Regions from separate parts of the Homo sapiens genome. Here all the other regions are linked to region 3. Evidence: fine-mapped expression QTL. A gene starts in region 3. Each other region holds a variant in brackets. All regions are shown on one strand. Distances are between the middles of the regions.

What was found.
Region 1: its variant is fine-mapped to the expression of CROT in whole blood (TOPMed, PIP above 0.99). The same link has a PIP of 0.9 or more in blood mononuclear cells.
Region 2: its variant is fine-mapped to the expression of CROT in whole blood (TOPMed, PIP above 0.99).

What each region holds. Positions count from the first base shown.
Region 1 is chr7:87,366,243-87,371,474 of GRCh38, reverse strand. CROT (carnitine O-octanoyltransferase) reads right to left here. Exons shown (of 18, transcript NM_021151.4): 7 at 1,991-2,099. It also overlaps a transcript of ABCB4 not described here. Among named protein-coding and RNA genes, the nearest start is that of CROT, 23 kb to the right of the region's middle. The variant C/T (reference allele first, on the strand shown) is at 1,949.
Region 2 is chr7:87,319,801-87,325,032 of GRCh38, reverse strand. No RefSeq gene overlaps it. Among named protein-coding and RNA genes, the nearest start is that of TP53TG1, 23 kb to the left of the region's middle. The variant A/C (reference allele first, on the strand shown) is at 2,540.
Region 3 is chr7:87,343,292-87,348,523 of GRCh38, reverse strand. CROT (carnitine O-octanoyltransferase) reads right to left here and starts at 2,860. Exons shown (of 18, transcript NM_021151.4): 1 at 2,757-2,860; 2 at 2,094-2,184. It overlaps TP53TG1 (TP53 target 1), which reads left to right and starts at 3,032. Exons shown (of 3, transcript NR_015381.1): 1 at 3,032-3,481. RefSeq lists a silencer at 2,835-3,044.

The sequences.
Region 1 (5,232 bases), 23 kb before region 3:
ATAGCAACAAATGGAAACAACTTTAATGTCATATCATAAAGAAATGGTCACATCAACTATAATATATCCATTTGATGGAATTCTATGTAATAGTTTAAAAGAATAAGGTAGATGTATTTGTACCAATATGGAAAGATTACATTTATTGTTGATTAAAAGAAGCTAACTATAAAAATAACACTATTTTTTAAATGTGCAACTACCCCATGCCTCATGTCAAACAAAAAAATCAATTAACTCTAGGAAGACTATAAATACAAACGTAAAAGTCAACACAAAATTCTAGAACATAGGAAATTATCTTCTTGGCACTGAGTTAGGGAAAAATTTTTTAAAACAGAACACAAAATGTATAATCTGTATGGTAAAGATTAAAAGATTAATAAACTGGAGTTCATTCAATTAAGAACTTCTGTTCATCAGGAAGATGTGTTTAATAGAACAAAAGATCAATTATAAACATCTTCTACTCTGTGTATTGCAACACACACAACCAAGTAAGAACTCTTACCCAGAATGTAAGGAACTCCTACAACATTCACACACTAGTAGACATAACTACTTTGGAAAACTGGCATTATCTATTGAAGCTGAACATACACATATCCTATGACTCAGCAAATTCTCTCCTGGGTGTGCTCCAGACAGAAATACATGCATGTGTACACCAAAAGACTTACACAAGGATTTTCACAGCAGCCTTTTTCAAATAATAATGCAAACTGTAAACAACCTAAATGACTGCCCCTGGGAAGGAGTGAAAGTCTGGAAGAGGGATGACGGGAATCTTTGGAGTATTAGAAATGTTCTAATTTTTGACCTGGGTGCAGGTTACATGAATATTTAGTTGTACATTTCTGTGTGCAGTTTTGTACATGTTTGCAATATTTAATAAAACTAATTTAAGTTATAAATAGATATATATACCCAACAATTAGAAAACAATTAGAACAACTGATTCTCTGTTAATGATATTAAAACACTGTTTATTTGGCTGGGTGTGGTGGCTCATGCCTGTAATCCCAGCACTTTGGGAGGCCAAGGCAGGCGGATTATTTAAGGCCAGGAGTTCAAGACCAGCTTGGCCAACACGGCAAAACCTCATCCCTACTAAAAATACAATAATTAGCTGGCCATGGTGGTGCGCACCTATAATCCTAGCTACTTGGGAGGCTGAGGCAGAAGAATCACTTGAACCTGGAATGTGGAGGGTGCAGTGAGCCGAGATTGTGCCTCTGCACTCCAGCCTGGACACAAAGCAAGACTCTGTCTCAAAAAAAAAATTATTTTTTAGAAGTCATTAGGTATGATAATGGTACTAAATGTGTATTTTAAGAGTCCTTCTATTTTAGAGATGTATACTGAAATATCTATAGTGAAAGGATATTATGTCAGATTATCTTCAAAATAATCCATGGGAAAGTGAGGGAAAAGGTAAAAGAGGTATAGTTGAAACAGCATTGACTATGAGTTTATAACTGTTGATGCTAGGAGTTGGTAACTGTTGAAGTTAGGAGATGGGTACACGGGAGTTATCATTATATAATCCCCTATACATTTTGAAATTTTCTGTAATATACTTTAAAACATATACATAGAAGATGTATACCATATATATGTATATACATATATAATACATATTATATATTATATATATTTTTTAAGCTAGGTATACATGTAAATTCATTGCAACAGGTATGGAACAATGGAACACACTAAACTAGTAAGAGTGATTAATTCTGGGGCAGGGAATGGAATTGGTAATATATGTAATGTTTTCCTTTTCTCCAAGTGAACATATTTATATATGTCTAGTAAAATTTAAAAATAATTTAAATAAAAAATACAAATAGATTTTTTTTTAAAAAAGCATGCATAAAATTCTTATTTTTCAGCTTACTATCACCTTGAAAGGCAATTCTAAACATGTATATTTTAATTCAAGCAA[C/T]ACCATAAGACCTAATGAAACTCAAGAAAGTAGTCTGAAAACCTGAGAAGCTCTGGCGGGGTGACCAAACATCCTTCATGTATTACATCAAAGACAAAAGCTCGGCCTCGACACAGCACTACAATGTGGTTTGGGGAACGCCCTTCACTCTCTGGAAACAGAAACAGAAAACACAAGACTCAAATCTAAGGTTAAACAGGAGTAAAGATGCATATATCCAATAGAAGAAAAGTAGGCATTCTTCCAGTATTTTATTTATCATATAGTCATCAAATATATCACATAACAAAAATAATGTATTAATGGAATTGCAGTTACTATGATATAAATACATACTCCTGACACTTGTTCCATGTGAGACATCTAGAAATCAATGAGTTTCAAATACCCTGAAAACCACATAAATCCCAAACTACTACAGACCTTTCTAATTTTACTTAGGAACAGAAATGGGAAGGGGAGAAGGAGACCAGTGGAATCTTGGAGGACAGCCATTTGAATTAACAGGTTTCTCTTTTGGATTATTTTAATGTTAATTACTCATCAGATAATTTAATTGCAGTAATATCTAGCTATGATAACTCAATAAAATAATTTTCAGTAGAAAAGGATACAGTATGCCAGTGGCAAAGGAAAAGAATTTTGTCCAGTCTGGTAACACCTGGTAAGCCACTGACAATGGATTATCTCTGATTTCTTTGGCACACCTTAACTCCCCAAGAACTGTTTGTTTGCTGTAAACCTCAGACTATTCTGATATAACCCCATCTTTAGGTACTTGTCCTTTTGCCAAGGATCTTCTTATGTGATCCCTGCCCCTACCTTCTAAGAAAAGAAAATGGAAAAAGAGGAAGAAAGAGAAGACATACACTGCCGCTTGAAGGAAATATAGTGGTGGGTATTATTTACGGGTCAGTATTAAGTGCTTTACATACATTATCTTATGAAATCTTTTCATCAACTATGAGGAAGAACAGTCTCCTGATAAAAATACTCTTTTTTCTCTTATACCTTATTTCCTCAAGACCTAGGGGATGAGATATGTGTTTTCCTTGTTCCTCATGGCTACCTCCAAACCATTTCTTCTTTCTTCCCCTTCAAAAACCTCCAGATCCTTTTACCTCTACGACCACCACTCTTTTATTGCTGTCATCTCCTGACCACACCCCTTTCAAAGTTTAGGGCTGGAAAAGAAAAAAGAAAATAAACCTGATGCCAAATTAATCAATAAATGGTTGGAAAGGGTGAGGGTGGCAGAAGGGTGCTACCTCACAATAAACCTGGCGGATATTTGAGCAGAAAACTGAATGGAGTGAGAAAGTACGCCATGTAAATACCCGCAGAAGTGTTTCAGGCAGAGGAAACAGCAAGCACAAAGGCATTAGAATAAACATGAGTTGATCTGCTTAAAGGAAAACAAGGTCAGTGCAGCTGCGGCACAGAGAAAAGGATAGAGTGGTAGATAAGGTTGAGACCCGATTATACTGGCCTCAGAAAGTGGTTTCCAGTATGATGGGAAGGAAACCAATGGATGGTTTTAAGCAAGGGAGTGATAATGTGGTCTCACTAAAAAGATCCCTCCAGCTGTTACATGGAGAACAGATTACAAGGGTGAAGAGAAGGTATGCCAAGTTAGGAGGTGACTAAAGTTGTCCAGGTGAGAACAATCTAAGAGAGATAGGATGATGGCTTCGACTGGGGCCTGATACTTGAAGGAGACATGAGGTGAATTGTTTTCCTTTTAAGATGGAAGATATTACAGACTGGAACAATCAAGTAAAGAAAAAAACTGATAAGCAGCAGAGAGAGAGGATAATGCAAAAGCAAGTTTCTTGACTAAGCAAGAGGAAGCGGGACTCAGCACAGATATAGAAGAGTTGTCCTTAGGAGTCAGAGGAGTTCATCTGTATTTTAAAAAGAAAAGAAAAGTATATGAATTTGCAGTAACATATTGCAAGGGGGTAGAGAATGGGCAAATATTTGAATCAGTATATTTTCACTGGTTGCAAAAACAAATTACTACTGACTTGGTAGCTTAAAACAACACAAATTTATTATCTTACAGGTCTAAGGACCAGAAATCTGAAATGTGTCTTACTGGGCTAAAATGAAGGTGCCATCAGGGCTGTGTTCCTTCTAGAGGCTCTAGAAGAAAATTGGTTTCCTTCCTTTTTCCAGCTTTTAGAGGCTATCCACATTCCTTGGGCTCATGAACCCCTTCTTCCATCTTCAAAGCCATCAAGGGAAGATCATAACCTTCTCATACTTCCATCTCTTTGGTTCTCTCCTTTGCCTCCCTCTTCCATGAATAAGGACCCTTGTGATTATATACTTTGGGCACATGTGAATAATCTAGGATAACGTCCCCATTTCAAGGTCAACTGACTAGCAACCTTAATTCCTCTTTACCATGTAACCTAACATATTAACAATTTCAGGGATTAGAAAGTAGACATCTATGGGGGACCATTATTCTGCCCATCACTGAAAGGCTGGTAAATGTCATGATGGGAAGATTGCTCATATCTGTTGTGAAAAACAAGAGTTTGTTAGCTAACAAGAAGGAGAGCGAAAGGCATAAAACAGTCTTCTCTGGAAGTGAAAGAATAAGCTAACCAAGGAAGATAGCACCGTAGTGCTGGGGGCCAACTTGAGATTTAACTGAGATCATTAAGTAAGTTTTATGGTTTTCTCTGGCCAAGTAAATTGCTAGAGTAGGTATCTTTGATATGTAGAGAAAAGACAAATTAAATTTTAAACGATGTTTAGGTTTTACCACATCAGTACTGGGGAGAGGTAGCAAAGATTTGAATGTGTATGCCTGGGAGTAATGATGGTGAAGAACCAGAAAGAAGTGAAGACGGGGAAGTAGGAATGGAGCCATGAAGAGAGCAGTAGCATCATTAAACTGTAAATCACAATGTGGCCAAAGGAACAGCTGAGTTGGAGTACTGAAAGATGTAGTTTCCTAGAGCTATAAACTGAAGGAAATGAGAGCCTATGGATCGTCTACAATTGAAAGCTAAAATCATCAAGAATATGACTGAGGTAGTAATGGAAAGAAAGACAGGCACTGGAGCTAAAGCAATCAATAGATGAAGGGGAATGGGCAGGAGGAAAGTCACTGCAACAATGTAGTGGTGATATAACCTGAAGGCATTTTTTTTTCCCCAAAAAGGCTAAAATTGTTAAGGACGAAGGGAAAACAGAAAGGGCAGAGGGAAACAAAAAGGATACCAACACCTCCCACAGGCCCTGTAGTGCTATATAAAAGAAAAAAAAAA
Region 2 (5,232 bases), 23 kb after region 3:
TGTCTGAGTATATGCTAGAAATCATAATTAAGGTTATTATGTTAAGTTATTGTAAAACACAGAAATAATAAAATTTGTCAGTCATGTTCTTGACTAACTACCTTGGACATTTCACCATTCAAAATCGTCTTGTTTTAATCCTCTTTAAAGGATGGTTTATAATCAGCTATAGGACTTTGACACATGCTCTCAAATGCAAGTTTCTGATAACTTTGGAGATTATGACATTGGAATAAAGGAAAAATGTACAGGACTCATGAAGAGCTAAAATATTCATGAATATCAAGCAAAACAAGAGTTAACAAAATGGACTTTTTAACCTTTTTGCTTAAAATGTTGCTGATCCTTATTTTGTTTTTCAGAGTCAAGGAAACTTATTTTAAGCTATTTATAGCCTCTAATAATTATGTAAGGTATACTTCTGTAAATAAAATTCAGAGCATATTTATTTGTTTCTCTCTGGTTCCTCTAGAACTTGGAAAGTATTTGTGAGTATTCTTAACTCATGGCAATATAATTATTTGCATCAGCACAATGAGAATCATTTTCTTTTACAAGAGGACACAATTGGAGAAACTGGTTGTTTTCTCAAGGTTTTGACTAAAGGCTGTGCTTCCCTTTAAGGAATCGAGCTTGACTTGCAGAGCCAATAAAAGCCCCTTGGGAAAACTGCCTCATACTTTGTCTACACAGCCCCCGAACAGGGTTCCTAACCTGTGGTGAGTAAAGAATATCACTTTCTACAGGCCCAGGAACACCATGTTCTTAGGACCTCAAGGAGAGAGGAATTCACCCAACTCATAGGTATTTGAGGGTACAAACCCATGGCTGGGCTCAGCTTTAAAAAGTTCTGAGATTCCTGTGGAACAGTTTCATCAAAGATAATATAAAAACCTATGTAAAAATAATTATTCTTGCTGTGCTTTGTACAAATAATCAGGCCAAGTATAAAACTAAAGTTGATTTTGCAAACAACTCAGTCCTATCATGATTTGTTTTTTTAACAAAAATGAGTAGAGACAGAAAAATTATGTTTCAAAACATATCATATGCTTGTCATTAATTCTAATCTCATTGATTGTTTTTAAGTTTTTGCCTACATTTTAAACTAATCCTGCTTATTCCTATAAGCCAACCAGCAATCTCTGGCTGCAGCTCAGAAAGTGCAAAAAGGGATGGGTGATGTACAAATCTGAATATTCTAGTTCTTGGCAATTATCCTACAAATCCTGTCAGGTGATGGGAGTAAATAGGGTACCCATAACCCAGAGGTTTCTTTGGGAAAATAAAACCAAGGAAGTTAACCAAAGCCAAGCCCCTTGCACTCAAATCTTAGTGGGCATAACTGTGGCCACCAGTTATCTGTACATGTCAGCAGCCTTGGGATTTTTAAGCTGTGCTTATCCCCTGCTTGTTTCCTCTAATAACCCAAATTGTTTCTTCTTGCCTAAAGACTATCAAACTCCAAATGGTAATGCAAATGAAACAATACATGGATATGCCTTTCTTCCAGGAATCCTTAGACCAGCCCCAGGAGAAACCCTAGCTGCTGTTCCCCATGCAGTGCCCCTTTCCAGTAGGAAGTAGCTAGAAGAATCATCACCCCATTCCCCCTAAGACCAGTTAGGGTCTCCACCCTTGAGGAGGGAAATAAGACAGGAGAAAGGAAGAAAGAGGTCAGGGAGGCAGTTAAAGTGGGTCATTGGTTGAATTCTTTCAAACAAAAGAACAGCCTGAAGGCACATATAAGGGAACTTGCACAGGGCGGCTTGCCTAAGACATGGCCACAGCCACACAGATAAGAAAGGCTTCACAGGTGACTTGTCCAGACATGCTCAGCAAAGTTCTGCCCCCCTCACACATACTTTGGGGAACAAAGCAATTTGGAGTACCTCAAGCTAAGGGCCCACATGTACACTAGGAGGACAGGGTGGAGCTAGCAGAAATTCATGCTTTATGCAGATGAAATGCCCAGCTATCCTCTTTTATAAAAGCTTTTGCATTCAACTGTAAAAATGGCAACTCTCTTCCAGGCCCCTTCTCAGTGGTGGAGAGCTTTCTTCTTTGCTTATTAAACTTTATTAAACTTTTGCTCCAACCTCACCCTTTGTGTCCATGCTTCTTAATTTTCTTAGTCCTGAGACAAAGAGCTCTGGGTGATACCTCAAAATGAGAGATTGCTACATTGTGGTGCACTGGCAAGACTGTAACATCCCTTAAAGGCAAAAAGAAAAAAAAATAAAGAAAAGAATGCAATTTTTCAAGAGAAGCAGTAAGAAAGAAGGATATGGAAGAGATGAAAATGAGTGGATGGAATGCCAGCAGCACTTTTCTTAAATGCCACTGAAGGGAAAATGCACAGAGAACCCCCACCTAGCAACTTTTAAGTATCCCCATTAAACCACTTTATGAAAAAACACCTCAAAAAACATACTTCAGAATATTAACAATGATGATTACTGAGTGGTAAAACCATGTGTGATTTCTTTCTTTCTACATTTTCATATTCTCCATGTTTTCAATAATAAGACATTTTATA[A/C]GTTAAAGCTATCAACAGATTGGGTAATTTTTTTCTTTTTTTTTATTTTGAGACAGAGTCTCACTCTGCCGCCCAGGCTGGAGTGCAGTGGTGCAATCTCGGATCACTGCAAGCTCCACCTCCTTGGTTCACGCCATTATCCTGCCTCAGACTCCCGAGTAGCTGGGACTGCAGGTGCCTGCCACCATGCCCAGCTAATTTTTTGTATTTTTCAGTAGAGAGAGGGTTTCACTGTGTTAGCCAGGATGGTCTTGATCTCCTGACCTCGTGATCTACCCATCTCGTCTTTTTTTAAATTATACATTAAGTTCTGGGGTACATGTGCAGGACGTGCAGGTTTGTTACATAGATATACACATGCCATGGTGGTTTGCTGTACCCATCAACCCATCATCTACATTAGGTATTTCTCCTAATGCTATCCCTGCCCTAGCCCCCCATCCCCCAACAGGCCCCAGTGTGTGATGTTCCCCTCCCTGTATCCATGTGTTCTCATTGTTCAACAACCACTTATGAGTGAGAACATGAGGTGTTTGGTTTTCTGTTCCTGTGTTAGTTTGCTGAGAATGATGGTTTCCAACTTCATCCATGTCCCTGCAAAGGACATGAACTCATCTGTTTTTATGGCTGCATAGTATTCCATGGTATATATGTGCCACATTTTCTTTATCCGGTCTATCATTGATGGGCATTTGGGTTGGTTCCAAGTCTTTGCTGTTATAAACAGTGCTGCAATAAACATACATGTGCATATGTCTTTAGAGTAGAATGATTTATAATCCTTTGCGTATAAACCCAGTAATGGGATTGCTGGGTCAAATGGTATTTCTGGTTCTACATCCTTGAGGAATTGCCACACTGTCTTCCACAATGGATTAACTAATTTACACTCCCACCAACAGTGTAAATGCATTCCTATTTCTCTATATCCTCTCCAGCATCTGTTGTTTCCTGACTTTTTAATGATTGCCATTCTAACTGGAGTGAGATGATATCTCATTGTGGTTTTGATTTACATTTCTCTAATGACCAGTGATGATGAGCTTCTTTTTATATGTTTGTTGGCTGCATAAAAGTCTTATTTTGAGAAGCGTCTGTTCATATCCTTCACCCATTTTTTGATGGTTTTTTTTTCTTGTAAATTTGTTTAAGTTCTTTGTAGATTCTGGATATTAGCCCTTTGTCAGATAAATAGATTGCAAACATTTTCTTCCATTCTGTAGGTTGCCTATTCACTCTGGTGATAGCTTCTTTTGCTGTGCAGAAGCTCTTTAGTTTAATTAGATCTCTTTTGTAAATTTTAGCTTTTGTTGCCATTGCTTTTAGTGTTTTAGTCATGAAGTCTTTGTCCCTGCCTATGTCCTGAATGGTATTGCCTAGGTTTTCTCCTAGGGTTTTTTATGGTTTTAGGTCTTATATTTAATTCTTTAATCCATCTTGAGTTAATTTGTATGTAAGGTGTAAGGAAAAGGTCCAGTTTCAATTTTCTGAATATGACTAGCCAGTTTTCCCAGCACAATTTATTAAATAGGGAATCCTTTCCCCATTGCTTGTTTTTGTCAAGTTTGTCAAAGATCAGATGGTTGAAGATGTGTGGTGTTATTTCTGAGGCCTCTGTTCTGTTCTATTGATATATATATTTGTTTTGGTACCAGTACCATGCTGTGTTGGTTACTGTAGCCTTGTAGTATAGTTTGCAGTCAGGTAGCATGATGCCTCCAGCTTTGTTCTTTTTGCTTAGGATTGTCTTGGCTCTGTGGGCCCTTTTTCAGTTCCATATGAAATTTAAAGTAGTTTTTTGTAATTCTGTGAAGAAAGTCAAGGTAGCTTGATGGGGATATAGCACTGAATCTATAAATTGCTTTGGGCAGTATGGCCATTTTCACAATATTGATTCTTCCTATCCATGAGCATGGAATGTTTTTCTATTTGTTTGTGTCCTCTTTTATTTCCTTGAACACTGGTTTGTAGTTCTGCTTGAATAGGTCCTTCACATCCCTTGAAAGTTGTATTCCTAGCTATTTTATTTTCTTTGTAGCAATTGTGAATGGGAGTTCACTCATGATTTGGCTCTCTGTTGGTCTATTATTTGTGTATAGGAATGCTTGTGATTTTTGCACTTTGATTTTGTATCCTGAGACTTTGCTGAAGTTGTTTATCAGCTTAAGGAGATTTTTGACTGAGACGATGGGGTTTTGTAAATATACAATCATGTCATCTGCAAACAGAGAAAATTTGACTTCCTCTTTTCCTATTTGAATACCCTTTATTTCTTTCTCTTGCCTGATTGCCCTGGCCAGAACTTTCAATACTATATTGAATATCAGTTGTGAGAGAGGGCATCCTTATCTTGTGGCGGTTTTCAAAGGGAATGCTTCCAGCTTTTGCCCATTCAGTATGATGTTGGCTGTGGGTTTGTCATAAATAGCTCTTCTATTTTGAGATACGTTCCCTCAATACCTAGTTTATTGAGAGTTTTTAGTGTGAAGGGGTGTTGAATTTTATTGAAGGCCTTTTCTGCATCTATTGAGATAATCATGTGGTTTTTGTCATTGGTTCTGTTTATGTGATGGATTACGTTTATTGATTTGTGTATGTTGAACCAGCCTTTCATCCCAGGGATGAAGCCGACTTGATCATGGTGGATAAGATATTGATGTGCTGCTGGATTTAGTGTGCCAGTATTTTATTGA
Region 3 (5,232 bases):
ATTATGTGTTGATATTGCATTGATATAGAAAACTTTGGAGCACAAAGTACAAAGAGGTGTGGAAGTGTCCAACTGTAGAATTAAAGATTATTATAGAATACATAAATCATATGACAAGCTGCTTTAATTGCACAGGTCGTATGAGGTCTACACAGAATGGTCTCAAGTGTTCCAAAGCAATCTTGAACATATTGACACGTGTATTAATTGCTATCAAAGAAATCTAACTCAAAATGTGAATAAGGTATACAAATGCTAAATAAAAAATGAGGTTTCTCAAAGCCTTTGTAAATTATCATATATTAATTATATTAAATAATGTAATATATTAAATGTAATTATATGTTAAAATAGCAACTGAGAAATCAAAGAACGTTAATATTGAATTTGAACTTCCTATTCTCTCAAAAACTATTTTTTAAAACTGATAGCAACGCTAAACAAAGTATTCCACTCATAGGTTACAGAATCGAACACTATCAAAAACATGGACACAGAAGAGACTATTTTCAGCTAATACCTGTTTTCCTCTGCTTTAACAGAATCCTGAGTTGTAGCTGTGCATACAGCCCCCAGTTTTATCTTTCCTACCCTCTCTTGGAGCTCAGTGTGGCTTTGTGATGACCTTGTGTGTGTCACTTCCAGGTCATGCTCCCAAAAAGGAATGCATGTGTTCTCCCTGCACTTTCCCTCCTTTTTACTACCTGCTAGGTAGTGACGAACTAAACAGCACCATGGCCTCATTTATGGAAGTCATATATGCAGGATTGCAGAATCTCCCTACTAGTCCTGGACTCCTACCTCTAGATGTATGGAAAAAAAAAAACTTCTATTTTATTCATACCATTGTATTTTGGGCTTTCTATTGTAGGGAGAAGAGCTTAGCCTGTACCACTAATATAAAGAGATAATTTGAAAATGAGAAATAATAATTAACTCAAAGTTCTTTAGCTTCTTTCTATCTATTGACTTTGGCTGCACACCATTTTGACCATCCATAAAAATGGGTTTGTACCTAATGGAAATGTAGATCTGGATCCAAGTACAGACTCTGCCACTTTCTAGCCATGTGCCCCTAGGGCAACCAACTTTAAGTGAATTTCCTTATCTTAGAGTGGTTAATCATACAATTCAATAAAGTCAGAATTTGTTTTCAATGCCTGTGAAAGCACATTATAAAAACAAAATAATCCTGCCTGAAACCACCATATTGTGGTAGGCACAATTACTATGAATGGCCCCCAAGATTCCACCCCTGCTAATCCCCAGAACCTGCGAATATGGTGAGATCATTACTCCTGTGATTGTGATATTCTCTACAGAACTGACCTTAAAATAGGGATATTATCGAATTGGAACTAATCTAATCACTTGAGTCCATAAGAGCAAAGAGCTTTCTCTGGCCAGTGGCAGACAAGTAAGACTGCTTTAATGCTTGAGAAGGATTTGTGGTGTCTTTGAAGATGCAGATGGCCTTAAAGAACTGAAAGAGGCTCAGGCTGACAAACAGTAAGGATATAGAAATGTCAGTGTGAATTCTACCAACAATCTGAAATAGCCTGGAGGTGGATTCTCCCCTAGAGCCTCCAGAAAAGAATCCAAATCTACAGAAACCTTGGTTTCGGTTTTGTGAAATTCTAAGCCAAGTACTCAGCTAAGCCCACCCAAACTTCACATTTACAGAAGCTATGAGATAATACATTTGTGTTGTTTTAATTGTTGCATTTGTGTAATTGGTTAAGGCAGCAATAGAAGACTAGTACACACATACAGAGAAGATAAGCTATTCTGTTTACCTCTGTGCCACTTAATAGACTCTAGAAAACTGGAAGCAAGAGTATTAGTTACATACCCACTATAGTGCTTAACCCACCAACCGGTACACATTAAAAATATAAATTATTGGATTCTTTCTTGAAGAGTTTTCTTGAATTCTCAACCACAAAGATTAAGTTAAATAAGATGGTTCCAATAGCACTAAGAAAATGATTATGCTAGATTTAATTAGAATTGACTTTCTGGGGGCAATTAGATATGAATTCACAGAAAGTGGAAAAGAACCACGAACAATACGTGAAGGAATTGTCACATACCAGTACACCAAGAAGATGAACTGCTTGAGACTGCCAGGAGCCTGCTGCAACAATTGTTTTGAGATCACAGGGAACTGGACTAAGTCGGTGACTGTGGGAAGAAAGAAACAAGCTTAACAAATATTTAAGAGGGAAAAAGAAATGAACAAGCTAGTGAAAGAAGGTGGAATGCAGACAAACTAGGAGTTGGGAGTTCCCAAGACAAACTTTTCGTGAATCACTGCAAACACACGCAAATAGTCCACCTGCTAGAGAGCAGGAGTAAATGATCATACAATTAAGTAGGTTTCAGACAAGTACACCTTCCATTAGACGGGTTCAAAGGGTAGAGGATACGTTTTCAGTGGCTGGGTAACAGGTTCGTCGCAGAGTGGCAAGGGGTAGAAGCAGGAGCAGAGGGCAATGAGAGCTCGGAGGCTCTTCCCACCAACCCAAGAGCAACTCTGCACTCAAGAGGCCATCAAGTGAGAGAAATCTAAGCACTACAACGGAGCAGCCCCGCGGCCCAACCTTGAGGGTACCCCTGAGACCCCAGCAGGCGAGATGCTTGATGACACTACTCCCCCACCAAATCCAGGCACCTTTGCGGTTCTGCACGACTTAACTTTCCCCCGCCCCCGAGTTGAAGGATTAGGGGAGGGAGGGAATGCTGCTTCAACGGACCTGTCCGTCCTCACCGCCCGCGCCTCGCCGCCTCTGCCGCAGCCTCAGCCTGCAGCAGCACCGGCTCGCTCCCCCTTGGGCCTCAAAGGTGCGGGAATTGGACTGAAGGCCGCTAGGGTCCCGCCCCGCATTCGCCGGGGAACAGGATTGGATAGAAAGCCGCGAGGGTCCCGCCCCTCACTTTCCGGGGAACGGGACTGGACGGACAGCTGCAAGGGTCCCGCCCCGTGCCTGACGTCGGGGGCGAGCCGGGCCTGCGCGGTAGTGGGACCCGACCCTGTCTCCAGTGGGCGTCTTGGGCCCCGGCTCTATTCTGGGCTGCGGGCCTGGGAAGGGCTCGCCGGGTGCCAAATGAGCTGTCCTAACTCTGCGGGGCTGCAGCTTCCTGCATGATGCTGGGGAGCTTGGCGCCTGACCCAGGATCTAGAAGGCACTCTGGGCAGGCCGCGCTCCGCCCACGAAGGTACCCAACCCTCTGGGATAGATGCAGGAAGCGATGGTTAAGACCCATTTTCACCCAACTTCTCGCCGCAGGTCTGGCTTACCACACGCTCCTCCCCATTCCCAGTGAGCCGCTTTTTGCAGCACCAGGCGAACACTTACACCAGTGCTTTGTAAAGGAATCTTATTGTCCACCCCGTGTCTTGGCAAAAGAACAGTGATCACACAGATTCCTACTTGGGCTCTTTCCTTTAATCTTCGGAGGCTGAGTTTGCCCAACTCAGGTATGCCGCAGCACACTACATCATCTCGGGTCTCCTTGCTCTTCTGCAGCTCTTCATTGCTACCCAAGTTATTTGAATACCCCAGGGATGCTTACCCCCGGGCCTATCTGATGTCTTTTACTGTTGTGCCAAGAAATGGAATCTTTAACCAGAGTGGAGCTACCCAAGTTCTAGAAGATCATAATGTGATTGACTTAGTTTCACAGATTAATTCATTTTGCTTTTACCTTCTGAAATAAAATATACTGTTTCATTTTTAATTTTAAATACACTGTTTCATTTTTTTGTGGAAGGAAAGACCAAATGTTTACACTGACTCTGAACTAGTTATCAAAGATAAAGATTTAGATTTCAAATTAACATGTCATGACAGGCCCCATTCCTTTGTCTGTCGTTTCTAACTCCTTTAGCAGTAAAGTTTGACCTGAAGGGAAGTGAGGCTATGTGTAACTGAATGTTCCCTTTGTGTAAATATTCATAAGTTTTCTACAGAAATATTGTGTTTGATTACAGTACAGCTTGCTGGAAGTGTTTCATAATATATGGCAGACGTACTATTCTAAGAAAAGTTCTGAATTTTGAAACATATCTAGCCAAAAAGATTTTAAATAAGGGATTAGGAATTTGTAGTTGTAATTTCTGAAGGTGTGATAAAGAACTTTTTCTTTCATATATAAGTGCGATGCTCTGGATGATGTTAAAGTTTGCTTACAAGATAAAGTTTTTAAATTGAGTAACTAAAAACTACTCAGAAACCTTCGTTGTATTTTTTTTCTCCTTTTTAGTGAGTCTTGGCATCTCTTTAAAAGTTTATGCATGTTTAATGCCTGTTGGTGCATAGAATTTAGAACCATTTCGCTTCACTCTTTTTCCTACTCTTGTTGTTTATTTCAATGGAAACAAGATGTTTCTGTAAAGATTCCTGAATTATCGGATAGACAAAAAGGTGTGGGAGTGAAAAAATGAATGGAACACAGATTTGAGTATGTAGAAAAAAATCTTTTAAAATATGTTATACTGATAAGCATATGTACCCCAAATCACCAAAAACAGGTATTTTAAAATATGTTTGGCTTCAAAATGTGTGATATATATTTTAATGAAAGATTCCAAATTATGTTGCATTCAGGTTAAACTTGAACGAGTTTGCATTTCTTAGAGTGGAGCGGGAGATATTGGCTGGTAAGGAAGATGTTTTAGGCACTTGAAGTATTTGTGATAGCAAGAAGTTGTTCCAAGATTAAAAATTGACTATGAGTCAAAGTAACTTTTTGGAGGAAAATTTGTAAGTAGTACAAGTGGTGATAATTTTTTAAGTTGCCATTAAAAAAATCTTTTATTTTTGTTCTTCTGTAGTTCTTACTCAGCATACCACAAATTGCAAAAGACTTTATAGATAAGTCTAGATAAATTTCACCATTAAAAAGTATTAAAATGCTAGACTAAGAAGTTCATGTTTCAATCTGCATAACTGGCTTCCTGCTAAGATTTGTGACTCTAATAAGTAAGGAGATATGGTAAATAGCCCTAATCTATGGGAGACCTGTAACCTCCTTTCATTCTGATGTATAAAATGAACATGTTGAAGAAATAATTTTGTGATGTTTCTTCTTTTTAATGGGGGGGCAGTAGAAATATGGTCATTTTGGGAAGCAGCCAACAGCAAATTAAAGTACACTGGACGCAAAGAGGGCAATGTAGCATTAAAAATGAACTCCACTGCCAACAGCAGATGAACAGTGTTTGATACA